Linked DNA regions of Homo sapiens: all the other regions are reported to be linked to region 1. The links are microRNA targets in miRTarBase. Many come from high-throughput screens and were not tested one by one. Region 1 holds a microRNA gene; each other region holds the end of a gene's coding sequence.

Region 1 (4,069 bases):
TAGACTTGTCCTTTCAGCTGTTTTATATAGTATCCTCTTAACTTACAGCTTAAGTTAGTTGACTCATTCAGTTTGAAGAATAAAAGGAATAAATCCTCAAAGCATTCTTATCTAAAAGAGAAAGGAATTTTGTTATGCTAATAAGTATCATAGAAAATTTTCCTTTAAAGAAAAGTTCAGCAGGGCCAGTGCCAACTGTTGTGTTGGTAATTGTATTGAACCTTTTCATAGAATTAGTGGGGATTTGAACTCTTTTTTAAAAGTTATAATCTAAAGACTTTTTTATAGTTAGCTCATCATTAATTTTTATGTCAAAACTTGCAGAAGGCCAGGCACGGTGGCTCACACCTGTAATCCCACCACTCTGGGAGGCCAAGGCGGGTGGATCACCTGAGGTCAGGAATTTCAGACCAGCCTGGCCAACATTGTGAAACCCTGTGTCTACTTTAAAAATACACAAAAAAAATTAGCCGGGCATGGTGGCGCACACCTGTAATACCAGCTACTCGGGAGGCTGAGGCAGGAGAATCGTTTGAACCTAGGAGGCGGAGGTTCCAGTGAGCTGAGATGGCGCCACTGCACTCCAGCCTGGGCAACAGAGTGAGACTGTCTCAAAAAAAAAAAAAAAAAACTTAACAGAAAAGTGTGCATTTATGTTTGTATGTGCCCTAGTGTAGAAAAGTAAAATGTACTGGGAAATTAACATGATAGTTTATTGTTTTTGAGTTTTTTTACAGGTATATAGCAATTACTGTCTCATAATTTACATTTTTATATGGAAACATACTTCTGGGTTTCCTTTTGGTTTTTATTTTCTTACCTCTCTACATTCTACTATCCCAATCTGATTAAAAATGAGAAATACTTTTTCATATCTCTTATATTTGTATTTCTTGTCAAACAACACTTGCTTACCCCACAGTGTCAAGAAGCATGTTTTTTTTTAATTACATAAAAGGGTGAAACTAATTATTCAACCAAATAATGAAAACACTAGTAGACTTGGAGCAATTTTTTTTCACTGTGGCACAAGTAATGTTTAAAAGTTTGTATTTGAACTTAAAGAAATTTTGCCCTAAATTAACAAGCCCAACTGAGCAAAGTATTTTTAGACCAGATAGGGTATGGGCAGTAGAAATACAGGATCTTTCATTATTTTTCCTTTGGTGGATAGGGAGGAGGATGGGGAAATATCTCAAGGATAAAATGCTCTAGGTCTTTTATCCATGTGTCCCAGTGGACCACAACTGAAATCAGGACTAACATTACTGCTGGGGAAATGAATGTACTAGTCTTTTGTTATGAATGTGAAACTACTGAACTGTTCATTCAAAACAAGGTTGAGTAAACCCCTGTCAACAGAAACAGAAGAAACCCTGGCTACACACATAAGACTTTCTGAACAATGCACTGTATAATGGGAAAGAACAACAAAATAAAAGTCAGAATCCTGATGGCCCTTAGTCATTTGTAACTGGTGTTAGGCATATCACTTAAAGCCACTGAGTTTCAGTTGGACTCATTTGCAAAGTATGGAATTTTTACTGTGTTGTCTGTTGAAGCCTCTGTGTACTGTAAAACTCCATAATTCTTTGTGTCTCATGTGAGTCATTTCTAGTTCTAAAAGGTAGAATAATAGAGAATTGGTTTGTAACAGCTTGGCAACCAACTGTCAATAACTGGAGTCAATGAAAGCAACTATTTCAAAAGATCAGATTACTTACCAGTTTCACTAATAAAGATTTATTACTTTAAACCTTTATCATAAAATGTATGCTTTGAATACTGTGAAGTACACTGCATATAAGGAGTGTGGTATAGTATAAAGAAACTTTCTGCAGGTAGTAATTATAGTGAAGATTTTAGGTTTACAAAGCCCTAGCTGTTTTCTGTGTAGCTTTTATTATTCTTATGACTCTTGACAAGTTTGTAGCTTCACCATATACATTTAATATTTTGCAATAATTGGCCTTGTTCCTGAGCTGTTGGATTCGGGGCCGTAGCACTGTCTGAGAGGTTTACATTTCTCACAGTGAACCGGTCTCTTTTTCAGCTGCTTCCTGGCTTCTTTTTACTCAGGTTTCCACTGCTTTTTTGCTTTTTTTAATGCTGTATGAAGGTGTTAACATTTGTTTATATTTTTCATTAATTGTAATACCTTTAAATCATGCATCATACTCAGAAATAGGGATTAGAATTTAAGTGACATCTTTGGCCTAATATAATTTACCTGTTAAAAATTTGTGAAAGCTATTGCTTATTTCTTTTCCAAAGTAGATTTGGATGACAAATTCAGTTTGGTTTTGAGCTTATCTAAAAAGCTTAATGTTTTAAGCATACCAAACTCATTAGCAGAAGTCAAATATGTCTCTCCCTATTGCTACACAACTTTTTAGGGATATTGTTATATATGAAAGCATGACATCAAACGGACCTAATACACCTAAATGCATTTGAAGCTACTTGGTCTCGGTTCTTACCAACGATATAATTTAATTTTTTTTTCCAAACGATGATGTTGTTGCATACCTGTGGAAAGCAAAATGATTCTGTGAAACTATACTTTTAGTTTTGCAACCATTTGATAACTTCAAAGATTATCAATGTATTATATCTTTAGTCTTAGCTTTCCAGATAACCCAGAATCATATGGTTCCAAGTTGATTAAGCTTTGTTACCAGCAGACTATGGTAGGATCCTGATGAACGACACTATGGAAGAAACTTGTTAGGATAAACAGTCTTCAATGTGTGCATATTGTTGACAGAATTTGAAGGCACAAATTTAAGAGTAACTAGGGTGTAAAAGGCGAGCAAAGAAAAGTCAGCACTACTGGGTAAGCAGGTGAGGGGGCTTATTGATAGGAGAGTCGGCTATGTCAAATAGGGACTCAAGGCACAAAGTCAATTTCTTTACTGACAACTTTCAATCCAAGTAATAGGAATTTTGTATTTGTAAATTACTAGGTAGTGGCTCTGGCTATTCTTGTTTTTTCATTGATTTCTGTGAGCATTTCTTAGTATGTATTGTGTGATTCAGCATAGATTCAGACATTGTATAATACCTACAAATCCACCTATTTCCCTTTTCCCTTCTCCATTAACCTGCCGCCACTGAAATCTGGAGCCAAATATATCTGGTAAGTACCCACAGATTTCCTTGAGTTGTATAGACTCTTCCATGGAATAGTTCTTTAAATAGCTGTGAGCAATAAACTCTGTGTGACTGTTTTTGTTAGAATTGGTTTTTGTATATGTATATGTTTATTTCAGGCACAGGAGTGAGAGAAGAGGGGATGAGAGATGAGAAGGGATAATCAAGTGTGATGGCAATTGCATCTCCTTCCAAATACACCCATGGGGCTGGCTTTAGTTGAACTTGCCCACCTACTAAAATAGTGCCACAGACAGAAGCCCAAGATTATAAGCTTGAGGTTTTAACAATTTGGTCTTGTAGATGCCTAGTTACAAATAAATTTGGCTTTAGTAAAATGGCTCATCTTTAAAAAAAAAAAAAAAGAAAACTACCTTCACAGTGCTTCTATTGTACAAGCACAGTCTGGAAAAAAAATTAATAGGTACTATTAAGTGAAATAACCTTAGATTCATGGGTATTCTAAGCATTTCTTTAATACTTTTTGTAATTTTTCTGATTATTTCTGTGTTATTAAGAATGCTTTCCTTTAGAACAAATGCTAGTTCAGATCACCTATATAAAATAAAATCAGCCTGTTAATGCCTGTTCAATACTTTTGTGCTGAGCACTGCATTTCCTTCCTGCTCTCTTCTTGGTTAAAGTGAGAGTTAAAAATAGAACATTCTGTGGAGCCCTCCAGGGAAGTTCCTGAACCATCAGTTTATATTGTCCTAGTTCTCTTAGCTTGCAGAATTGATTGTGCTTTCCTCTGAAAGTGCTGAAAGAAATGGGATAATATTGCAACAGTGCAGTCCTTTAACAAAACAGAATGGTAGTGTTTTAAAAAAAAAAATCTATGTTGAGATCTGGATATTTATTTTGTTGTTTGGTATCACTTACTATTGGCATTTCTTACTTTACAAAATAGAGGCTT
Region 2 (4,069 bases), not on the chromosome of region 1:
CTACTCAGGAGGCTGAGGCAGGAGAAATCCTTGAACCTGGGAGGCGGAGGTTGCAGTGAGCCATGATCACTCCACTGCACTCCAGCCTGGGTGACAAAGTGAGACTCCTTCTGGAAAAAAAAAAAAAAAAGATGCAAAACTTTGACACAGCAGTCCAGTGTGGTGGCTCATGCCTGTAATCCCAGCACTTTGGGAGGCCGAGGTGGGTGGATTCCTTGAGCTCAGGAGTTAGAGACCAGCATGGGCAACATGGTGAAACCCTGTCTCTACAAAAAACACAAAAATTAGCCAGGTGTACCGAGGTGCACCTGTGGTCCCAGCTACTTAGGAGGCTGAGGTGGGAGGATTGCTTGAGCCCCGAAGTTCAGGCTACAGTGAGTTGTGATTGCACCACTGCACTCCAGCCTGGGTAGCAGAGCAAGACCTTGTCTCAAAAAATTAAAAATAAAAATACTTTGACATAGTCAAAGTTTGTGCTCTCTTTAATTTTTTTCATTATCAAAAGAGAATATTCTATATGGAATTGTCTGTCCTACCAAAGGTATGACCTTGTAAATGTGTATTTGTCTTTTCAATCCAATTCTCCTTTTATATCCATATTTTACTCATTTCTTAATTGTAATAAAGTGGAAAACTGATCTAATTATATATAAAACCTTGTGTCAAAATAGATTTAATGATTAACACTAATCAATTGCCAGGAGACAAAACACAAACAAAACAGATAAACCAAACAAAACTAAATCTACCACCAAACTTACAACAGGAATAGAAAATGGTGAAAGCAACAGAAATATATGTGACTGATACAATGTTGAGATACTTTCCCTTCAATCATTATAAGCATTTGTCAATAACAGTTCTATCATATTTTCCTTTTTATATTTAAAGTATCATGATCTCCACATTGGATGCTCTATAAATATCACAATCTTAATGATGAATTCTAGACTCATTCAAGTTAGAGCAACTGCTTTACACAAAATGATAGCAGTAGACAAATCTAGGCAGCTGCTTGGGTGGGGTGGGGTTCTCACAGGTTCTGAAGCTAGCTTGCAGTTAGAATTTTGGGAGTCAATAGAAGTAAATGAATTCATGAAATATTTCAAATTATGATTCAGTGCAAGATACATACATATCTTATAATTCTATTCATCATAAATATTTTCATATGTATATGAGAATACATCTAAATATATGTAACATGTACATATATAAATGTATGTATATATGAGAAATGCTTGTAAATTTCTGTCCCAAACTTAGAATTATGTACAAGATCCCTGAATTTCATAATTCGAGGCAGTGTAATTTTATAGGCATGACATGGGACTAGAAAAGTGTGCTCACTCATTCTAAACCCAGTTGTCACCAACCTGCTAGATTCTGGGCAAGTTGTTCTTCCATGCCTTAGTGTGATTATGGCAAAGTAGAATTTGCCTGTAGCCCTTTAAAGAGGATTAAAATAAGTGCAAAGTGCAAAGTCACATGAGCAAAAGTGCTTATGTAAAGCCAAGACACAAGGAATAGCAAGATTTTTATATGCAACGTGGGTAACTTTTAAAAGCAAGTTAGATTTCCTAATTAAATGTAAATGTTGCTAGATGATTTATTTGCAACAAGCAACAAAGAGACTGAGAATCTAAAAGGATAAAGTCTTTGGCAGTCTGTAATGATTAAGGACTTACTTTTATCTGCCTTAAGATGATGCATCTTAAAAGAGAGACATACACTCACATATGCACTGTAATATGATTTATGCTTTCTAAACTTTTAATTTGGTAGGAACTATCAAACATGTGGGTTTGCAGTCTCACTCCTGTAAAAATTATAAAACAAAATAAACAATGATCATTTTATAAGTGATCCTAAATGATAAGAAAATGTAATAGCCTGGCAAAAACATAAAGCACAGAAATTTCTATTCTATTTTTCAGGAGTATGTTATTTCTTGAGCTCCTGGAAGAGGAAACAAACTCACATATACCTACATACCCACCCAGATAAATTTGTGTGCATATACTCCAGAAATTTATAGCTTATATGCTGCTACATTCTTAAGGAAAAACTGGTTATACATATGATTTAGAAGAAGAGACAAAGAATGGGTTTATATGATTATGGTGTTTTCCTTTTGTGTTCAGACATATTAAGAGATGCAAAAGGTTTCTGGTAACATTAATCAATATTATTTTAAGAGCAGAAAAGCAAATTACTTTTTCCACATTCTCAAACTATTACTTATGAAGTTTAACAAATTTCAAAATAATCATATGTAGTTATACAGAGAGATAATTTTGCAACGAAGATGGGAGTATTTACTAATCAGTAACAGGGGCAACTTCATTAAGTTCTAGTGTCTCCTAGATTTTAGGTCTGTTTATTTGATAGCATAACAACCCTTGCAAATCCTTTTCATTGCAAACTTGTATCTTCTGAAGAACTAACTTCATAGCAAATAGTATTTTTTAGAAGAAGAAAACTACTGACCCCACTACCTATAATAAAACATGACTGACAGCAAGAGTTAAGAACTAAACTCTGCAAAATATGATGACTGCTGTGCAATAATTTAACATATAAAACCAAGTGATTATATTAAGGTCACAGATTTATACTGAAATGTCAAATTCTGTGAAGTATTTCTAACCCCCCGCCAAAAAAATCCTAAGAAAGAGTAGGTCCAATATCTTTTTGGATAATCTTTTTTTTTTTTTTTTTTTTTGAGATGGAGTCTCACTCTGTCGCCCAGGTTGGAGTGCAATGGCACAATCTCGCCTCACTACAACCTCCACCTCCCGAGTTCAAGCGATTCTCCCACCTCAGCCTCCCCAGTAGCTGGGATTAGAGGCACCCGCCATCATGTCTGGCTAATTTCTTTTGTATTTTTGTAGAGACGGGGTTTTGCCATGTTGGCCAGGCTGGTCTCAAACTCCTGACCTCAGGTGATCCGCCCACCTATCCCTCCCAAAGTGCTGGGATTACAGGCGTGAGCCACTGCGCCCAGCCTGACTTTGGATAATCTTAATGGTTAGACATCCTTGCTTTTTTAATATTCAACACAAGAAATCTATAACCTTTATCTGTACAAAGGATCCAAAGAGTTCACTAATTCTACCTATGCTCTTTATAAGAAAGATTTTTTTTGAACCATTAAAACAAACATTACAAAAAAGTGCTTTCTTCTTAACTGCAAGGATATAGAGTCAAAAAGTCTCTTATCAAGCTGATAATGATCAAGTTCAGGTCCAAGATGCAGACAGAACTTCTGTGGTACAGTACATGGACTTATTCTTCCTTTATTCCTTGCAGTTTGTCATAAAAAGTTGGATAGTCATGTCTTTTGTGGTCTTCTTCTTCTTCTTCTTCTCCTTCTCCTCCTCCTCCTCCTTCATCTCCTTCTCCTTCTTCTCTTTTCTTCTTCTTTTCTTTCTTTCTTTTTTTATTTTATTTTTGAGATGGAGTCTTGCTCTGTCGCCCAGGCTGGAATGCAGTGGCGTGATCTCAGCTTACTGCAACCTCTGCCTCCCAGGTTCGAGCAATTCTCCTGCTTCAGCCTCCCAAGTAGGTGGGACTACAGGCATGCCCCATGACGCCTAGGTAATTTTTGAATTTTTAGTAGAGACCGGGTTTCACCATGTTGGCCAGGCTGGTCTCGAACTCCTGGCCTCCCAAAGTGCTGGGATTACAGGCATGAGCCACCATGCCCGGCCTATCAAATAACACAAATTTCTTATACCAAAATGACAAGGTAGTCAGTGAGATGGGAGAGACATAGATTTTTTAAATACCCTAAATCCTTTTGTGTGCCCAGGATATGGTGGTGGTGGTGAAACACTGTGTTTTCTGGTCAGCGCCACTGCCTGTTCATAAGAAGGTAATCCTGCATCCTCCACAGAAGGCGGCAATGGAGACAAGGCAGCCTCCTCAGGTCTTCTGAAAATGATGGAGGGAGTGTGCCTCCCCCTTTCATAGACGGCTGAAGAGCTAAGCAGAGAGACAACATTTAGGTCTAGGAAAGGTAGCATTTTTAGGTTGAGAGGACAATATTTAAAAATCCAACCAACTA
Region 3 (4,069 bases), not on the chromosome of region 1:
TGCCAAGAGCCCCGCCAACCTCTCTGAGGCCCTCTGCGCTGCTAATGTGGACTTCTCCCACCTACTGGGCTTTCTTCCACTCAACCTGCCCCCGTGTAACCCACCTGGGGCCACAGGAGGCCTGGTCATGGGCTACTCCCAGGCTGAGGCACAGCCCCTGCTTACCACTTTGCAAGCTCAGCCTCAAGATTCCCCAGGAGCTGGGGGACCACTGAACTTTGGGCCTCTGCACTCCTTGCCTCCTGTCTTCACGTCTGGCCTGAGTAGCACCACCCTGCCTCGTTTCCATCAAGCATTCCAGTAGCCCCCACAGAGGCCCTCAGCTCAGTTTTTGGCTCTGTTATGGAGCCTTAGTACCCACCCCGTCTGTGTCCCCCATGAAGGCAGCTGAGCTTTCAGAGCTGGGTTCAAAAAAAAAAATTCCAGTGTCTGTATACAGGAGCACTTGGTTTGGGGGTTCAGGCTCTAGGATCGATTCCAGAAGGAGCCTTGAGCCCCAACCCCGTGAAAAGATCTCATACCGTAGGACTTCAGGTATTATTTACTTTTATTTTTTTGACCTGAATCGGGAGCCACACTTGGCCCTCTTCCTCTCCAAAGCGCCAGAACCTCCTTCTCTTTGGAGAATGGGGAGGCCTCTTGGAGACACAGAGGGTTTCACCTTGGATGACCTCTAGAGAAATTGCCCAAGAAGCCCACCTTCTGGTCCCAACCTGCAGACCCCACAGCAGTCAGTTGGTCAGGCCCTGCTGTAGAAGGTCACTTGGCTCCATTGCCTGCTTCCAACCAATGGGCAGGAGAGAAGGCCTTTATTTCTCGCCCACCCATTCCTCCTGTACCAGCACCTCCGTTTTCAGTCAGTGTTGTCCAGCAACGGTACCGTTTACACAGTCACCTCAGACACACCATTTCACCTCCCTTGCCAAGCTGTTAGCCTTAGAGTGATTGCAGTGAACACTGTTTACACACCGTGAATCCATTCCCATCAGTCCATTCCAGTTGGCACCAGCCTGAACCATTTGGTACCTGGTGTTAACTGGAGTCCTGTTTACAAGGTGGAGTCGGGGCTTGCTGACTTCTCTTCATTTGAGGTCACATTTTTCCCCCGTGGGGAAATAAACTGACTTTGGACTGCTTCAGTCTCTGCCATCTTCCATGACTGCATTTGTTCCTGCCTGCCTCGGCGGTATCCACAGAAGACAGGCAAGAGGATTGGAGCAGTTTTCTCACAGGTCTGCAATTCTGTTTTTCTCCAAGTACATTATGACCCCCTCATCCTTCTCTTGAACTGGAGAGGGGAAGAAATGAAAGGCATGCCCACGTCCGTCACCTCCCCATCCCCTAGTCCCCACCTTGAACATCATGAGCTGTTGTTATTAGTCTTGGAAGCAGAGTCTGGGTTGGTGTGGATAGCAAAGGAGGAAGTCTGAGCCCCTCATTGGTCTTCCTCCCACCTGTCCCTTTTCCGGGAAGTTGTGGAATTGTTGGAAGAAGAGTTTGCAGAAGGTTAGGAATGGGTAGATAGCTAAGTCCTAATCTATGGGTACATTGTTGTGTCCCAAACCAAAATTTTCCTTATCCACAATGTCCCTTCTGTCTCTTCCACTTTACAGTGGACTCGGCCACTGTGCATAGGCTTCTCTGCTCTCCATCAAATCACTTCCACTTTCCTGTGCCCCCACCCCCGCCTCCAGTTTTCCGCTAGTATCCGGCAAGGTTTCTTGCAACAAATGATTAGTTCTTTTCTTCTGACTCGTGGGGCTCCCTGCTGCAGAGAGCACAGCCCTTGCCTGGAGCCCAGGAACCCCATCCTTGCTTCATCTCAGTTCTTCATGGGCTTCACTCTTCCCACTCACGGAAGGGAGGTAGCTCAGGGACCTCCACTGTGGGACCCTTGAGACGCTTCCACTCTGATTCAGAAACACACTTCTACCTCTTTACTGTTAACTCTTAACAGATGCAGTCAGCAGTTTCTGGGCACTTCTCTCAGTAGGTGCCTCATGCTGACTTCTCCAGTAGGGTTTCAGGACAAACTACCAAGGAATTGCCTCAGCCTCCTACCAGTCCTCCCTCACCCACCTTCTGTCTAGGTTCACTTGGTTTGTCATCAGGAACTGAGCAGGTCCAGGACTCAGCTTTCTGCTTCAGCCTAAGCCAGTACTCCTTGTTTGAGGTAAAAGCCTTAAAATTTAGCTCCCTAGCTCTTGATTAGAAGCAATTTGGAGTAAGTGTGTTTTGATTTAGGCAGGGTAGCTTGGGATACCTTTTTAAAAACACCAGATATTAAAATGTCTGGCAAGGTTAGAATCAGACTAGATGATTTGCTTCTAAAAATTAGTTTCAGTGAGTCCCAGGGACTAATTAAGGTTTATTTTAAAAAGTGTCTACCTTGGTACGCAGCCACCTCCTGCATGCTGTGCATGTTATTGGGACTTGTATTATAGGTGATGGTATGTGAGAATCCAGTTGGGACTCGCTGTTGCCATCCTCTTTGTTGTATCTGGTTTTCATCACTAGACTCAGCAACCCTTCTCACCTTAACTGCCACCTTCCCTACACTCTCAGTTTACAGAGGCCACTGGGCCTCTGGCTGCAGAATACAAAGTCCCGGGCTGTTAGAGGAGTCCTTTCCTCTCTGCCTGCCCTTTCCTGTCCCTCCCTCGAATTCTCTCTCCCCGTAAGTGATGCTGGAAAAGTCATAGGACTGGCAAAGCAACTGTTTAAACCCTTTGTAACCGGGGCCTTGCCCCCACCTCCTGTCTTTTCTCCTTGCCTTCCCCACTCCTGTGTCCTCCCATCTATCCTGTCTTTCCTTTCCTCCTCTCAGTGTCCTCAGCACCCACAAGGAATTTTCCTATCACTGTGAACTTTGCTGGTACAGAGGAATAATATCTGCCTTCACCTTTTTTTTTTTGGACCATAGCTAGCCAGTCATTTCTTAAACCTCCCTTCCTAAAATCTGGGGGGTCGGGGGGAAAGAAAAAAAAAGCCTTAGTGGCCTGGTTGTTCAAAGGATAAGAATAGCTTTATCCTGCACTCAGTACCCGAACTCACTTCAGTATGCTTACTGAGGCCATGAGAACCTGAGGGGCATCTGCCCAGGACAGGAGCCATGGCATATGACAAAGACCAATGAGGGACCAGGAAAAAAAGTGATGTCCCCTTTCCCTGCCACCTCCAGCCTCTGCCAGCAATGAGCTGTCCCCCTCCCACCCTACACAGTAGCTGGTCAGGGCTGAGTACAGTCCTGGGGGTAAGGGGATGACATGCCCAGGTGTCAGCTCAAAGGATCTCTGCATCATCTTGAGGTGGGAGGCAGGGAAAGGAGCGCCAATGAGGTTCCCTGCAACCCCCGCCCTCCAGCCCACCGCCCAACCTTTTACAAATGGCATTTTCTTAATTGAAAATCCGGGAAGCAGGTGTGATTACTTTTTTGCTCGTAGATATTGTCCTAAGTTGGAATTCTCCCACTGCCCTAAAACTTTCCCTAGTAGTCCTTTAAACTCCCCCCTCCCTTTTTGGTAGCTGTTTTCTCCGTCCTCTCTCCACCTGCCCTCTTATCTAGGAGCTGTTTGTAAGCACGATTTTTTTAACAGGTTATATTGTACAGGATCAATATTTTGCTTTTTAACAAGGATATTTATGTAATAAGAAACTTTGCCTTAGGCAGGTGTTGGCCAGAAAAGTCCAGATTCCTCTGGGATCCCACCCTGGCCTCTCCTGGAACTCTGAACCTGCTGTGGAAGGAATTGGCCATGACCTTCACCTCTGGAGAGTAGGGTCTATGGCGAGGGAAAAGGGTGTTCACCATGATAACCTAGTGCCTCCATAGAGGGGTTTGGAAAAATTCCAGTCCGATTTCTTTGTGTGTCAGCTGACTTCCTTAGCTGATTGTTCCCACTTGCACCTCTCCACCTTTGGCACTAGAACTCCTGAGACACCACTTCTCATGCTTCTCCCTCCCTACCAGCGGTCAAGGCTTTGGAGCCACTCTTTTGTAACTCCAGATTATTTAAAGAGAAAAGTACAAGACAGAAATCTTCTAGCACTTTGTAAACACAGTGAATAA
Region 4 (4,069 bases), not on the chromosome of region 1:
TCTTCTCTGCCCACGCTCTGCCTTCCTCCTGGTTGGTGCTCCAGCGTCTGACCTCTTCACTAGTACCCTGGATCCCAGTGTCTTCACCTGCTCAGGCTCTGCTCTAGTCCATTCTCCTCCTCCTCTTCTCGTACAGCGTCAATTTTTCTACTTATCGTTCCCATGAGTATATAAATTTATCCTAGAATTTCTAATATTTTAAAACACCAAAATCCTCAAAAGCCCCCATCTCTTCAGTTACCCATCCGTTTCTCTGTGTTGGGAGACAATTCTCCATGGGTTTCTCACGTTTCTCACTATCTTACAAGTACATATGGTGATGGCTTTTGTTACAGGCTGTTTTCAGGATGAATAGCCTTAGATAGGTAATCCGTTCTCCAGAGCAACAGTTTGTTTAGCATCCAGTATAATATGTCTTCCTTCTAGACAAAGGTTTGATAGATTTACTTCTAGACCACTGTTTAAGATTCAGGCTCCCTAAACTTGGACCTCCCCTCCTGTAACTCCACCCAGCAAATGTGTATTCGAGGTCAGTACAGTATGTCTTCTGCCAGTATCCATGAAACTGGTAGCTTAACTTGTTACCTTGCAAGTAGGACAAAATCTCAGACTTTTCAGTCCTTAACACTTGGCCCCTTATTCACAGCTCCTGTTTCCAAGTTTATCTTGAATCCTCCTAGATTTACCCTGACCACTCCTTTATAACTGTTTTTTTCAAAATGACCTCACTGATGGTTAATCTCAGCATATATCCAACTTCATACAAATTATTAGTATTTGATATAGTGGCCACTCTTCTACTTCAAAATAAGTGTTTTCAGCTGGCTTCAGATACCACCCTCTACTGGTTTTCACCCTAACCCTGGTGGTTCCTTCTCAGTTTCATTTGCCAGTTCCTGCCCAGCAAACACTGGGGTGAGTGCTCGGGGCTCAGTCCTTGACATTCTTTATACTTTTTTTTCCTAGGTAATCTCACCTAGCTTTATGGCTTAAAATATTATCCCTGTGACAACTCCCAAATTTTTATTTCCTCTGAAATTGGGCTTCAGAGTCAGTCATCTTACCTCTAAACGCATAAGAGGCATGAGACAAACAGTTGCCACTTGGAATGACCATAGGGGAAGAAGGGTCCTTCTGGGAAAGCCTCATTACAGTCGGACCAGCAAGGCTGAAACTGAGATGGGAGATTTGCTGATTGTGCTGTTTCCCCTCCTGGTCCATCCTCCATCTTTCTACCCTGCTTTATCCCAGGAGGACGGCATCACCCGGGCTTCTGATTAGGTTCAGTTGATGGAGGCATCTTCAGGAGACAGCAATAAAGAGCTGAGGCTTTTCCCCCTCTGCTCCCTTTCCTGACAGTTCTGTGTTTCTCACAGTAGCTGCATCTTTGTAGAGCTTCAACATCCACTTAAGAGACACTCTTCCTTTTTATTTTTCTATCTCCTACAGGAAAGAGACCTTCCAACATTTTGGCTCTCACTGGGCTCTGAAACACCATTTCTTCCTTTGGTCCCTAGGGAGACAACAGCTTCTTGGCACTGCTGGTCTCTGGATTCCTTACCATCCGTTGTTTGTTCCCTTAATCCTTCTCTCATTCTCCAAGTCATCCTTTCATAAGGCGCTAATTCAGTTTACTGCTAAAGCCCTCACTGATAAAGCTGGTGAGGTCCACAGGTTAAAAATGGAAGGAATTCTATTCACCAGGCCCATAAAATCATATACAAAGACACACATATATAAGGGTTTATCTTTATTTTATAAAAACTGCTACACACACACATACACTCTCTCTCTCCCCTCTTGCTTTCCTCATTTGACCTAGAGAAGTTTGGAGTTTGTTCCCACACATTCTTTTCAAGGAAATACCATTCAGCCATGGTATGTTTTTACCACAATTTATTCATCCATTCCCTTACTGATGGTCTTTTTTTTGTTTGTTTTTTTGGTCCTTACCAAAAAATACAATATACATTAGTAAACATATAATCTTAAGTGCTGGCGCTTTTTATTCCTTAGGGATAGATTCCCAGGAGATTCCTAGGTTGTAAGAGTATATTAATGTTAAAACAGACTCACAATGTTGTCCAAGGAGGCTGTTACAATTTACATTTCTAAAAGCAGCTATGAAAATAACGTTTTCCCCTCCTTTGTGAGTAAGTAAGATGACAACTTAGACAAAAGCTTATTGGGCTATGGATGTTCTGGATAAATTTGTTCAGAAAGTCACTCAATATATAGTGTGACAGCACATCAATGATATCCAAAAATATTTTTTAAAAGCCAGTTTTTGGTTGCCATTTATAATTTCCAATACATGATTTGTGATTGATAGGGAAAGGCTGAACTTAAGAATTTGAAATCAAGTCTATAAAAGCAAATCTTTGAGTTACACAACAATTCTTGTTAATATCTGGAGAGACCACTGAAAAATCTGATTTTTATAAAAGTGTAAACATGTAAAGGAAAAGTAATAACTTATAACTCATGTTCCAAAGGGAAATGTTTTAGGTTGGCAACAGCAAAACTCAAGGAAGTAGAAATGCCTCCTTTAAACAACAAAATAGTGTAAAAATTTACTTCTAAAGGGGGTTATGCACGTGAAAAATTTAAAAAGCAATGAAACAGTTGACAGTTATTTAAAATAATTTTTCCTCTAAAGTCTCTGAAATGTAACATTTGTGAACTACAGAAGCATCCTACCATTTTTGCTAGACAATTCATGAAATATTAAGGGAAACAAGGAAAGACAAAAACAGGTGGTTTCTGTCTGTGTTACACAATATTTTGGTAACAGACATGCATTTGTATGCAAATATCCCACGGGAAAATAAGAGCATGACGAATGGGGATATTGTCTTTACACGGCAAACTCTTATTCTGTGGTGCATACTGAGTAGTACAGCTCATGTCTGCCTCCTTCACGTTATAGATCGGTTATTTCACATTTGCATATTTGTGTAAATAGTGCTTCTAGAAAATCTTCAGCAAACCAGAAGCAGGGAAAACTTCAACACTGTCTTCTGTTTCCTAAGAGGCAGCTCAAGAACAATGTTCATACCAACTGATATATGCCAGCAAGCAGTAGGGAAAGACGTAGGTTCCATGCTACTTTAAATGTTACACATTTCATTTGGAATGCATACTGGATTGCAGAGATACTGAAAAACACATGTGATGTTTAGTATGGAAAATCTTGTTATGTCCTAATTATCACAGAGGACAAGAATTTCAAATTCCCAGTGATTATGCTAAATTCACATGTGCAGATCTAAAGCATACCACTTGTGTTTTGTGGCATATCCACATAAAACCACTAAATTCATAGGATACTGTTTGTATATTTCTTATGCTGCTGTCTAGAATACTCAATTCATTCAAGATTTTAAAAAGCTCATTGTAGTACAACTGGGTATGGCTATTTACAACTGGATATATTCTGATATGTATTCTTTAGCTGGGTATCACATGTAACTTCCAGTATAATGTTCTCATGGGATCCTATTTTTAATACATTTTTGAGTTGAGAGATTGCATCTCAGTATGAATTCCCATGTTCCCTCAATACTGTCATGAGGTTTTTCACCCGCTTGAAGAGTTCTGGCAGGAGTTTTCCACAGTAAGACCTGGCTGGAGTTTCAGGGTTTCTCCCCGATGTGAACTCTCTGATGGACACTGAGTCGGGACTTCCTGCTAAAGGCCTTCCCACATTCGGAACACTCATATGGTTTCTCTCCTGTGTGGATTCGCAAGTGTAATCTAAGAGTTGACCTCTGGCTGAAAGTTTTGCCGCACTCAGTACATTCATAGGGTTTCTCTCCTGTATGAGTTCTCATGTGTATGATGAGCTGTGAGTTCTGGATAAAGGATTTTCCACATTCACTGCACTCATAGCGTTTCTCCCCCGTGTGAATCTTCTGATGTATGATAAGGTTTGACTTCTTAAAGAAGGTTTTTGCACATTCGTTACACTCATAGGGTCGCTCTCCTGTATGAATTCTCTGGTGTGTGGTGAGTTCAAACTTTTGGGCAAATGTCTTTCCACATTCACTGCACTCATAGGGCTTCTTCT
Region 5 (4,069 bases), not on the chromosome of region 1:
TAGCTGTAGAAGATATGAGAAATCGATGGTGTTCCTACCTTGGTCAAGAAATGGAACGTAAGTTTAAACAATGGTAGTAGGCACCTGAGATGTCCGGATTAAATGCAGTTAGAATTAGATGTTATTTATTCTTGCCATTTTTTATATTAAATACAATATTAAGTATTAATATTTTCACATTCACATGATTACTCTTTTTCCATATTGATGAACTAAGCTGTGTGCATTGCAGTTGCCATTTATGTTTTTGTCTCCCCAAAATGGCAATTATCTTACCTATTAGAGTAAGTTAATATTAGTAAATCATGTTGACAATGATCGTGTAATAATTTCTATCTTTAGTTAGATTTAATTGTTTGTATTTGCAGCACACCTCCAAGAAAAGCTGACAGATTTTTTGCCAAAACTGCTTGATTGTTCTATGGAGATTAAAAGTTTCCATGAGCCACCGAAGTTACCTTCATATTCCACGCATGAACTCTGTGAGCGATTTGCCCGAATCATGTTGTCCCTCAGTCGAACTCCTGCTGATGGAAGATAAACTGCACACTTTCCCTGAACACACTGTATAAACTCTTTTTAGTTCTTAACCCTTGCCTTCCTGTCACAGGGTTTGCTTGTTGCTGCTATAGTTTTTAACTTTTTTTTATTTTAATAACTGCAAAAGACAAAATGACTATACAGACTTTAGTCAGACTGCAGACAATAAAGCTGAAAATCGCATGGCGCTCAGACATTTTAACCGGAACTGATGTATAATCACAAATCTAATTGATTTTATTATGGCAAAACTATGCTTTTGCCACCTTCCTGTTGCAGTATTACTTTGCTTTTATCTTTTCTTTCTCAACAGCTTTCCATTCAGTCTGGATCCTTCCATGACTACAGCCATTTAAGTGTTCAGCACTGTGTACGATACATAATATTTGGTAGCTTGTAAATGAAATAAAGAATAAAGTTTTATTTATGGCTACCTATGTGTTTGTAAGCAGGTATATTGTATATTAGTGTATTAGTAATACTAGATAAATGAATTTTGTCTGGGGATTAAGATTGGATAGTTAATAGATTAATACAATCTTTTAATTCTGCTCTAATGCTAGCAAATTGGAAAATGTTTAAGTCTTTGACACTTAAATTTATCTATATTTTTAACAAAGTTCTTGAACTTAGTATGGCACCGGAACCTGTTTTGAATTCAGTCAGGTTTTTACTCAAGTAAGTGGTTGATTTTTTTTAAGTCAAACTACACTGAAACTTTTATCCTTTTCTTAGATTAATCTTACTTTTTAAATGTATTTACAATATACAGCAAGGTGATTATTTCAAGAGAATCCCAAAGTACTTGAATAAGGGCTATTGTAAAATTTAAAAGAAATATTTATATATACACATATATACACATACACACATGTATATATATATTCTTCATAATGGAGGACAATGTTTTGCAATATATAAATCATTCTATTTTTGTAAATTGTATATCACTTTAATTGAAAATGTTCTCTACTAATTAATACTGTGAAACAAAATTGATGTTGTTTAACTAGAAGTTATGAGTATCTTAACTGCCTTTATTCCTTTTCAAAAAGGAAAAAGCTGTAGAACATTTTGTAGATGAAACTACTGTTTAAGATTAATGAATTAATATTGTGAATGAAAATCAAAATCCATACTTTAAAGGTAATCATGTTACTAACAACCTATTTTTGAATTCATAAAAATTTCTTTATAAATGATGTTTTGTGAACATAGTAAAATAGACCATTATACTATGTGTATGTTTGATACAGCGTCGCCAAAACTAGTGTTCTTTATTAGTGCCTCTCACAAAAGATCCTGGATGGAGGAGTAAGATGAAATATTATGCTATTATATGATGCTGTTTGTAAAGGTATTAATGTACTAGTAAGGTGTTAATGACAAGGAATTAGTACTATTCCTGTTGTAAAGTTAGATTTTGCATATTGTATCTATCAAAATATGTTTGGGTTTAGATTTTAAGTTGTCTACTGAGCAGATTTCTGCATTGGTTTTCCAGTCCTGTTAAAAGTTTAGAAACTTCATATGTGTCATCACAGCTTTTGTAAAGAAAGTATCCTTAATATTTTATGACATTCTACCACAGTGGTAAAGTTGTTTGTGTTTGTGTATAATTGACTGCTGAGATACAAAGTGCCCAAACACTATATGGAAATTATTCCTTCAAAGTCACATCCAGAGAATCATGTCACTCTTGTGCTGAAGGTAAGTATTATAATTGTATTTACTATGTACTTAAAAACCAGATTATTTATTCCTAGTAATGAATTTGAAATAACTTATTTAAAGAAAAGTGACCTTTTTCAAGACCTACAGAAACAACTTATTTTAATATTGGTTTTTAATCTAATTGTAAGGTTTAGATCATTGAAATTTCTTTTTTTTTTTTTTTTTAAATTTCCAACTTTTAAGTTCAGGGGTCCATGTGCAGGACATGCAGGTTTCTTACAGAGGTACATGTGTGTCATGGTGGTTTGCTGCACAAATCATCCCATCACCCAGGTATTAACCCCAGCATCCACTAGCTATTCTAACTGATCCTCTTCCTCCTCCCAGCCCCCACCCTCTGCCAGACACCAGTGTGTGTTGTTCCTTCCACCATTGAGTCCAATATGTTCTTATCGTTTAGCTCCCGCTTATGAGAACATGCAGTAGTTGGTTTTCTGTTCCTATGTTAGTTTGTTCAGGATAATGATCTCCAGCTTCATCTGTGTCCCTGCAAAGGACATGATCCCATTCCTTTTTATGACTGCATAGTATTCCATGGCGTATATGTACGTTTTCTTTATCCAGTCTATCACTGACTGGCATTTAGGTTAGATTCCATGCCTTTGCTATTGTGAATAGTGCTGCAGTGAACATACACGTGCATGTTTTTATAAGAGAACAATTTGCATTCCTTTGAGCATATATCCAGTTACGGGTTTGCTGGCTCAAATGGTATTTCTCTCTTTAGGTCTTTGAGGAACCATCACAGTCTTTCACAATGGTTGAACTAATTTACACTTCCACCAACAGTGTAAAAGTGTTCCTTTTTCTCCATAACCTCGCTACCATCTGTTGTTTTTATGACTTTTAATAATAGCCATTCTGACTGGTGTGAGGTGGTGTCTCATTGTGGTTTTGATTTGCATTTCTCTAATGATCAGTGATACTGAGCTTTTTTTCATATACTTGTTGGCCTCATGTATGTCTTCTTTTGAGAAGTGTCTGTTCATGTCGTTTGCCCACTTTTTAATGGGTTTTCTTTTTTCTTGTCAATATCATAAGTTCTTTATAGATGCTGCATATGAGACCTTTGTCATATGCACAGATTGTAAAAATTGTCTCCCATTCTGTAGGTTGTCTTTTTTACTCTGTTGTTAGTTTTGCCATGCAGAAGTTCTTTAGTTTAATCAGATCCCGTGTGTCAGTTTTTGCTTTTGTTGCAATTGCTTTTGACACTTCGTCATGCAATCTTTGCCCATTCCTATGTCCTGAATGGTATTGCCTAGGTTTTCTTCTAGCGTTTTTATAGTTTTGAGTTTTAAATTTAAGTCTTTAATCCATCTTGAGTTGATTTTTGTATATGGTGTAAGGAAGGTGTCCAGTTTCAGTTTTCTGCATATGGCTAGTCAGTTCTCCTAGCACCATTTATTAAATAAGAAATATTTTTCCCATTATTTGTTTTTGTCAGGTTTGTAGAAGATCAGATGGCTATAGGTAGGTGTGTGGTCTTATTTCCGAGTTCTCTATTCTGTTCCATTGGTCTCTATGTGTCTGTTCTTGTAACAGCACCATGCTGTTTTGGTTACTGTTGCCTTGTACTGTAGTTTGAATTTGGGTAGTGTGATGCCTCCAGCTTTGTTCATTTTGCTTAGGATTGCCTTGGCTACTCAGGTTTGGTTTTTTGTTTCGTTTTGTTTTGTTTGGTTCCATATGAATTTTAAAAGTTTTTTCTAATTCTGTGAATAATGTTATTGGTAGTTTAATGGGAATAGCACTGAATCTATAAATTGCTTTGGGCAGTATGGATATTTCTACA
Region 6 (4,069 bases), not on the chromosome of region 1:
AGGGCAGTGCAGGGAAGACTCTTGCAGCTCAGCAGGTGCTCTTCCCAAGACAACTGGCTACTTTCCAGCAGTTCCCAGGGGGACCACCAGATGAGCTGGTTCAGTGACCTCAATCTCGGATGTTCAGAGACCCCTCTATGCAAGGAGGCAGGAAAGAATTTGCTCTATGACCTGGGTTTTGATAGCAGTGATGATGATGGCTTCTGACCAGTCCACAGTTGATTTATTGGTCTCAGCTAGAAAGAGAAATTGCAGGACATTTGGGCTGGCCAACAGCAGAAAGTCCCTGAAGCCTGCCAAGTACCCAGGGTCAGAGGCCCTGCTGAGGTGGGGCAATGAGCACGAGGGCAGGGAAGGTCCAGCATTCTGGGTACCAGGTGCTGCCCCTGACAAGGATTAAGTGCATCCTTATTTATTGGAATGAAATGTGAAAATGGTGCTGATGAAAACTGAGGCAGCAGCCTGGTTGTGGGGCATCTGGAGCAGGGTGCCTGTACTTTGGCGAAAGGCAGGCAGGCCTCCTTATGGAATACTGTGTAGCAGAAGGGCTCTCATAAAACTGTTGCGGTGGCAGCATGACTCCAAACAACATTTTTGGGTCTTTAAAATATTCCCTACACATGACCAATACATTTTCAGGCCTCAGGATTTTTTTCTTTCTTATTTTTAGCCACTTATGCTACCAGAATGTTTGCATTTTTTGATCAGTAGACATATTACAGGACACCCTAAATCTTCTTGTGAACAGAGAAAATAAAATGATAAGCCTGCCAGTGAAAGAGGTGACATTCACTAGCAAATGTCCAGAGCATATCACTGCTCACAAGCCATTTTTCTTCCTGGTTGCTTTTTCCCTTGTCCTGTTTTTCAAGCACTTTCTTAAAACTAATAATATTGTAGACCTTGTATTTCTGAAGAGCAGTGGGCTTATATGGGACTTTGGCTTTCCATTTTTATCTTGCTGAAGTTTTTGAGTTTTTGCAACACAAGTATTTTTTGTTATCAGAAATAAGATAAAACATTTAAAAGCATATATTTTTTTTCTTTCTTTCCACCCCCACCCCCAACCGAGATGGAGTATTGCTCTGTCACCCAGGCTAGAGTGCAGTGGTGTGATCTCAGTTCACTGCAACCTCTGCCTCCTGGGTTCAAGCAATTCTGCCTCAGCCTCCCAAGTAGCTGGGATTACAGGCGCCCACCACCACACCCAGCTAATTTTTGTATTTTTAGTAGAGATGGGAGTGTCACTATGTTGGCCAGGCTGGTCTCGAACTCCTGACCTCATGATCTGCCTGCCTCAGCCTCACAAAATGCTGGGATTACAGGCATGAGCCACTGCGCCTGGCCTATTTTTTCTTTCAAGTTTATCAAACTGATGTCCCGGTTTAATTTTTTAAGTTTACTTAGGAAATGAAATAGAAGCCAGGCACACTTGTAATCCTAGCACTTGGGGAGGCTGAGGCAGGAGGATTGCTTGAGGCCAGGAGCTCAAGACTAACCTGGGCAACATGGTGAGACCCCATCTCTTTTTTTTTTTTTTTTTTTTTTTTTTTTTTTTATTGAGACAGAGTCTCGCTCTGTCACCCAGGCTGGAGTGCAGTGGCTCGATCTCGGCTCACTGCAATGCAAGCTCCTCCTCCCGGGTTCACACCATTCTCCTGCCTCAGCCTCCCAAGTAGCTGGGATTACAGGTGCCTGCCACCACGCCTGGCTAATTTTTTGTATTTTTAGTACAGACAGGGTTTCACTGTGTTAGCCAGGATGGTCTCGATCTCCTGACCTCGTGATCCGCCCGCCTCGGCCTCCCAAAGTGCTGGGATTACAGGCGTGAGCCACCGCACCCAGCCCTTTTGTTTTTTGAGGAGTTTCACTCTTGTTGCCCATGCTGGAGTGCAATGGCGTGATCTCAGCTCACTGCAACCTCCACCTCCCGGGTTCAAGCGATTCTCCTGCCTCAGCCTCCCAAGTAGCTGGGATTACAGGCATACGCCACCACACCTGGCTAATTTTGTATATTTAGTAGAGATGGCTTTCTCCATATTGGTCAGGCTGGTCTCGAACTCCCGACCCCAGGTGATCTGCCCGCTTCAGCATCCCAAAGTGCTGGGATTACAGATGTGAGCCACCACGCCCGGCCTGTGAGACCCTATCTCTACCAAAAAAAAAAAAAAAAAAAAATTAGCTGGACATGGTGGCGTGCACCTGTGGTCTCAGCTACTTGGAAGGCTGAGATGGGAGGATCACTTGAGCCCAGGAGTTTGAGGTTACAGTGAGCTATGATTGTGCCACTGCACTCCAGCCTGAGTGACAGACCAAGACCTTGTCTCTTAAAAATTAAAATGAGAGGCCGGGCGCAGTGGCTCATGCCTGTAATCCCAGCACTTTGGGAGGCCGAGGTGGGCGGATCACTAGGTCAGGAGATTGAGACCATCCTGGCTAACACAGTGAAACCCTGTCTCTACTAAAAATACAAAAAAAAAAAATTAGCCGGGCGTGGTGGCAGGTGCCTGTAGTCCCAGCTACTTGGGAGGCTGAGGCAGGAGAATGGCGAGAACCCGGGAGGTGGAGCTTGCAGTGGGCCGAGATCGTGCCACTGCACTCCATCCTGAGCGACAGAGTGAGGCAGAGCTTGCAGTGGGCCGAGATCGCACCACTGCACTCCATCCTGGGCGACAGAGCGAGACTCCATCTCAAAGAAAAAAAAAAAAAAGGCCGGGCGCGGTGGCTCACGCCTGTAATCCCAGCACTTTGGGAGGCCGAGGCGGGCGGATCACGAGATCAGGAGATCGAGAACATCCTGGCTAACATGGTGAAACCCTGTCTCTACTAAAAACAGAAAAAGTTAGCCAGGCATGGTCGCGGGCGCCTGTTGTCCCAGCTACTCGGGAGGCTGAGGCAGGAGAATGGCATGAACCCGGGAGGCAGAGCTTGCAGTGAGCCAAGATCGCACCACTGCACTCCAGCCTGGGTGACAGAGAAAAACTCCGTCTCAAAAAAAAAAAAAAAAAAAAAATCAGGGCCGGGCGCAGTGGCTAACGCCTGTAATCCCAGCACTTGGGAGGCCCAGGCGGGTGGATCAAAGGTCAGGAGTTCGAGACCAGCCTGGCCAATATGCAATATGGTGACACCCCGTCTCTACTAAAAATACAAAAATTAGGTGGGTCTGGTGGCACGTGCCTGTAGTCCCAGCTGTCCTGGAGGCTGAGGCAGAAGAATCACTTGAACCCGGGAGTTAAAGGTTGCAGTGAGCCGAGATCATGCCACTGCACTCCAGCCTGGGCGACAGAGTGAGACTCTTTCTCAAAAATAAAAAAAAAAAAGAAGATATGAAAATCAGATACATACCATCTTTTTAGTTCCTAAGGCTCTCACAAGATTATTTTGAATAAACACCACCCATTCAAACTGGTTTTTCCCTTTCCTGTATTATATGAAGGGGAAAATCCTCATGGGATGGATAGTTTCCAGAATTTGCCCATTTCCAAGCCAGTACAGTAAATGACACTGGGGCCGCTGAGTGGACCACTGTAGAAAGCAATGGTTCTTGTTTCTTATTTTTTACATTATTTTCAGGGATGTGTGTCCCATCAAAGTCTCATTATGGAGGAGTTGAATTTTCCCGGGACACCTGTGGCAGGGCTGCCAGACACCAGCCTAAACTGCTCTCACTCTCATTTCCAGACCAAGGGCCTCTGGTGGCCTGTAGGGAGCCATGGGCAATCACAGCAACCCTCTCTGAGGCCAAGGAAGTTCAGGTATGAGCTGTACCTGAGGCTGCCCTGGCCTCTCCTCTCCCGTCAGTCCTCACTGGGTGTCTTCTCACCCTGCCCTCTGCCAGCTCCACTGCTTTCCCTGCTGGGTTTCATTGCTTGTGCAAGGAAGATACGGAAGCCACACAATGGGTTGGTTCTTTCTAGCCCTTCCCAGACTGACTATAGGCCAGCGGGGTCTGTATCTAGAAATCTTTTATTACTCTAAGTTGAACAGTTTAATGATTAGTCATTTTAATTTAGAGTTGAGATTCCATTAGTATTTGACTGTGGCCTTCTTATTGAGAACTCTGTTCAAC
Region 7 (4,069 bases), not on the chromosome of region 1:
ATCACTCTCAGAAACTTATTTAATGTCTTTCTCAGATCACTGCTAATAAATTACGTCAGCTCTTCTTCATAAAAGAAATCTCTATATACAATGTTGTATTTTTTTAACACTAAAAGGCAAGCCAGGTTATGGTTTTAAGAAGTACCAATTTAATAATGAATACTTAGAAATATGGTACACAGATACCATAGTAATATAAAATGCATACAATTTTAAATTATTTTCTTATAAACTCTCTACATGAATGGCTGGCGGCTTCCAACAGATAAACTTTTGGACAAAGGTACAAGATATTTTTGGGCATTCATTTTAAATACCATCTAGTTATCCAATTAGGAGGTTTCTAAAAAAATAAATATGACAAATATATGGATTTCTGAAGTATAAACTGACATACAAATCTATATATTTTCTTAATACTTTTCATTAAAGCATCTTTAAAGCATTCTGTAACATGAAGTTGAGAGTTCAAATTAGATGTAATGAAAAGGCATGAGGTTTTATTAGAACTGTGTAATTCACATATCAAATTTTTACATAAAAGTAAACAAACACAAAATTGAAAAGCAAAATACGTTATTTTACTCTCCAAGTTACCAATTTCAGAAAACTACTCACTGGAAAAATTAATATTCCCAATTCTGAATGTTAATAAGAAAACATGTAGGTGCAATTCCAGAAACTTAATTCTACCTTCTAAGAAGCAGTGAAGGAGTAAGGTAACACTGCCCCTTGGGGATTGTCAAAGCTTTTCTAGAACTGCTGGAGAGCTGATTCTCTTTTGAGACAGTGAGAATTAAAACTATCCATTCACCAGCATACAAACCTGTGATAAGCTCTCTTTTCCAAACTTCCATATGATCAGAACTCTGAACCATAGGTTAGTGAACTGACCTTAAATGTGCCCACCTCCTCCATCTCACTGAACAGGCAGCTCCAGAGGAAAAAAAAAAAAATCCATTATGTTTTCTCACCTGAACAGTTTGAATGAAATATCTATTTTGAAGTTATAGAGAAGAAATAATAATCTTACACAAGGGCTAGTTTGATGGAACTTAAACTCTTAAATTTCATGTAATAAATGCTAGTTATTAGAAGAATATGTTCTTTAGTGGAATTTAAACCATCAAAACTTAACTGGGTACATTACTAGTTTTAAAAGTTAACATGGGAGAAATAAAAGCATTTTCCTGCACTAATTTAGAGCAGTGGTCTTCAACTCTGACTACAAATTAGAATCACTCAAAGAGCTTTTGGAAAAACAAGCATGGCTCCATCTTCCAGAAATTTAGACTTAATTGTTATGAGGTGGATTCCATATTAAAAGTCCTCAGATGATTCTAATATGAAGTGAGGGTTGAAAACCACTGATTTAAAACAATTATTAAATTATTAATGACTTATGGTGGTCTTGATTTAAATAAATTATTTAAAATTCAAATACATGAGCACTTTTTATGTAATAGGCACAGTTCTAATAATAAGGTAATTTTTTAATAAAAATCATTGGATAACATTGATACATTTTTATCATTTGAATTATATAAATTTATTAAAATATTACTCAAACTTCTATTATAGTCTGCTGTCACAAAAGATTTCCTATTAACTTTTCTGAACTACCCTCCACTTGATACTATGGCAAAAGAGAGATCACACTCAGAAACTTTTCCTTAAGAAAGATACATGGAGAGAGCCTAAGAATTTTAAGAATTCATTTTCAAGTCACAGTACATGAGGTATTCTCCATCTTTTATCTGGAGTCACAAGCCATAACCTAAGAACTGAAATTAGGCATTGTTTTTGGATGCTTAACAGAATCTCCTAGATCAAGACCAACTCCCACTGGTATCAGTGCTTGCTTTAAACTACCTAAAAAAAAAAAAAAAAAAAAAAAAATCTATGGCAGATCCTTAGGGAACCTAGTAAGAGTGGGTCTTCTAATGCAGACCTTGTATCTTATGACCTATTTATAAAACAATTCTTAAAAAAAATACAGGATATGGTTTTTGAAACATATATAATTAGAAATTAGTTATCTCAAAGGAACTAAAAAATATATAGTTTTGAAATACTATATAATTAGAAATTACTATCCCAGGATGATAGCCAGAGCTTTCATATTTTAAATTAGAACCAACTTTTTAAGGTATTATAAAGCTCATTTAAAATGTACTTTAATTCAAGAAAAAAAATCAGGTATAAATTAGTAAGTTTAATTTGTAACTACTTTTTAACCTATTTTTCAGGTTTAAATTTGCCCAAACCAACTGAAAAATTTATTAATACTATAGTAGGCTAATTATCTTTTATATCCAGACATTAGGCCAAAAATGATACAATTCTGGTTAATCCATAATATATGCATATATAGGAAAATGCAATAGTAATTTGTTTTCCATACTTGATGATTAAAATAGCTTCAAATATTTTATGAAAGCTTAGTCAAAATAAATATTTAATAAAAAGATATACCATAACAAAATATCAAGAAGTTAGTGTTTGAAAATAAACTGTCACGTTGTTTTGCTTTCAGTCAAACAGAACTGAATTCAGTGGCTTAAGGTATCTAAGAATAATTCAATTGTGACTTTGGAAACAAAAAAATTAAAATCCAGGTTAAGACTACAGAGCTAACACAAAGATGAAAGAGAAGTTTACTACGTTATAACTCAAAAGTTTAGAGTTATTGGGACTTCTCAATGACTACGATCTAAGAAACATGAATAATTTGGGGAGTAAAAGTAAAAAAAAAAAATCATGATTATGTGATTCATGTTGTGACACTCTCAATAAGTAAAACTAAACAACAAAAAATACAGTATATATGAGCACCATTAAAAATGTGTGTATGTAGCTATACATGTGTCAAACTTTACCTGATTAAAAATTACATTTAAAGTTAAAAACAAGTATACAATTATGAAAATACATTCTCAAGCTAACATGTCATGACTTATTTTAAAATGTTTCATCAAGCATTCCTTCTAAAACTCAACTAAGGAATACAACATAAAAAAAGCCAGCATTCTTTTGTAGTGTAAATCCCTTGATTAAACAGAATTACTTAAGTGTTTTCAATTCATAGTTAGATTCTAAGAGGTGCAAGAAAAATGAAGTAGGCAAATAAATGGGAATTAACAGAATAAACCAGCACATGTTGGATTTGTCCTCAAGGGATTATCATTCAGGCCTCAAAATTATTTTTAATTGAGAGCAGTAAAGATTACATTGCCAGAAACACCTTCTTTCTATAATAAAAGTTGTAAATTTGTCACTTCCGCTGTAATATTTCTGCTATATTCACCCACACTCTGAAAACAGCGATACATAATATACATCCTGGGATAATACAGGTCTTTAATGAAAATCTTATTTTGATCCTACTTCAAGGCAGCTCATGATTGACCATTAGGAACCCTTGAACTTTTTTTCAAAGCTCCCAGTAAAAGCAATCACATGATACGGATTGATGTTCTTTGATACCATTGTCACGATAAATATTAATGTTATTCACCATTTAAAATACGTTCAATCTCTTCTAGTCTTTTTAAAGCAGCAACTCTTTTCTTCTCAATTTCTTTGATGTCTTTTGTTGTTTTGTGGGGTGTCTCTTCGTCTCCATTTTTTCCTAATTGTTTGTTGGATTTAGACTGACTTTTATTATCACTTGTTTTTACTATTTGTGTTTGTCTGGATTCACCTCTAATTTCTTTTACACTTTCAGTTGGAATTTTCTTTCCTTCCACACTTGAAATCTTACTGGTTGGGAATATTGGCTCTATAAAACTAGATGAGGAAATCTTATCCCTGACTATATTCAAATGGCGCTGAATATATTCTTCATGTGGTGCTAATGCCAGTGTTTCAAGAAGGCATCTTTCAGCTTTTAATAAGTCTTTTTCTTCAAAATAAACAACACAAAGATTGTGTTTTCCTTGCACATTGCTTGGATCCATCTCCAAAATCCTTTCAAAACATTTTTTTGCTCCTAGTATATCTTTCTTTTGATTCATCAGAATGTCTCCTTTTAAAATGAGGCCCTTGATATGATCAGGGTAGTATCTGA

What was found. The annotated mature microRNA hsa-miR-128-3p reads UCACAGUGAACCGGUCUCUUU and lies in region 1 at 2,028-2,048, shown strand. An mRNA with a match to its seed (bases 2 to 7 or 8) in the 3' UTR can be bound and repressed. Matches are read on the target gene's strand: a 7mer-m8 pairs with bases 2 to 8, a 7mer-A1 pairs with bases 2 to 7 and ends in A, and an 8mer does both.
Region 2: the mRNA of PRRG4 is a reported target of hsa-miR-128-3p. The part of its 3' UTR that is shown has no 7-base or 8-base seed match.
Region 3: the mRNA of PLAGL2 is a reported target of hsa-miR-128-3p. Seed matches in the 3' UTR shown: 7mer-m8 at 1,624-1,630, 7mer-m8 at 1,882-1,888 and 8mer at 2,859-2,866.
Region 4: the mRNA of ZFP1 is a reported target of hsa-miR-128-3p. The part of its 3' UTR that is shown has no 7-base or 8-base seed match.
Region 5: the mRNA of USP25 is a reported target of hsa-miR-128-3p. Seed matches in the 3' UTR shown: 7mer-m8 at 905-911 and 7mer-A1 at 1,522-1,528.
Region 6: the mRNA of IHO1 is a reported target of hsa-miR-128-3p. The part of its 3' UTR that is shown has no 7-base or 8-base seed match.
Region 7: the mRNA of TMTC3 is a reported target of hsa-miR-128-3p. Seed matches in the 3' UTR shown: 7mer-A1 at 1,726-1,732.

Annotation. Positions count from the first base shown.
Region 1 is chr2:135,663,419-135,667,487 of GRCh38, forward strand. It overlaps MIR128-1 (microRNA 128-1), which reads left to right and starts at 1,979; the gene lies at 1,979-2,060. The region is part of intron 19 of R3HDM1 (R3H domain containing 1); the gene reads left to right. It overlaps LOC124907893 (a long non-coding RNA gene), which reads left to right. Exons shown (of 2, transcript XR_007087245.1): 1 at 1-3,139. RefSeq lists an enhancer at 1,297-1,396.
Region 2 is chr11:32,853,214-32,857,282 of GRCh38, reverse strand. It overlaps PRRG4 (proline rich and Gla domain 4), which reads right to left. Exons shown (of 6, transcript NM_024081.6): 6 at 1-3,987. The coding sequence ends at 3,756. Among named protein-coding and RNA genes, the nearest start is that of PRRG4, 25 kb to the right of the region's middle.
Region 3 is chr20:32,192,687-32,196,755 of GRCh38, reverse strand. It overlaps PLAGL2 (PLAG1 like zinc finger 2), which reads left to right. Exons shown (of 3, transcript NM_002657.3): 3 at 1-4,069. The coding sequence ends at 304. Among named protein-coding and RNA genes, the nearest start is that of PLAGL2, 13 kb to the left of the region's middle. RefSeq lists an enhancer at 1-453.
Region 4 is chr16:75,169,901-75,173,969 of GRCh38, reverse strand. ZFP1 (ZFP1 zinc finger protein) reads right to left here. Exons shown (of 4, transcript NM_153688.4): 4 at 1,736-4,069. The coding sequence ends at 3,636. Among named protein-coding and RNA genes, the nearest start is that of ZFP1, 23 kb to the right of the region's middle.
Region 5 is chr21:15,877,935-15,882,003 of GRCh38, forward strand. It overlaps USP25 (ubiquitin specific peptidase 25), which reads left to right. Exons shown (of 26, transcript NM_001283041.3): 25 at 1-57; 26 at 369-2,130. The coding sequence ends at 541. Among named protein-coding and RNA genes, the nearest start is that of USP25, 150 kb to the left of the region's middle.
Region 6 is chr3:49,257,076-49,261,144 of GRCh38, forward strand. It overlaps IHO1 (interactor of HORMAD1 1), which reads left to right. Exons shown (of 8, transcript NM_001135197.2): 8 at 1-1,031. The coding sequence ends at 207. Among named protein-coding and RNA genes, the nearest start is that of MIR4271, 15 kb to the right of the region's middle.
Region 7 is chr12:88,195,090-88,199,158 of GRCh38, reverse strand. TMTC3 (transmembrane O-mannosyltransferase targeting cadherins 3) reads right to left here. Exons shown (of 14, transcript NM_181783.4): 14 at 1-4,069. The coding sequence ends at 3,510. Among named protein-coding and RNA genes, the nearest start is that of TMTC3, 55 kb to the right of the region's middle.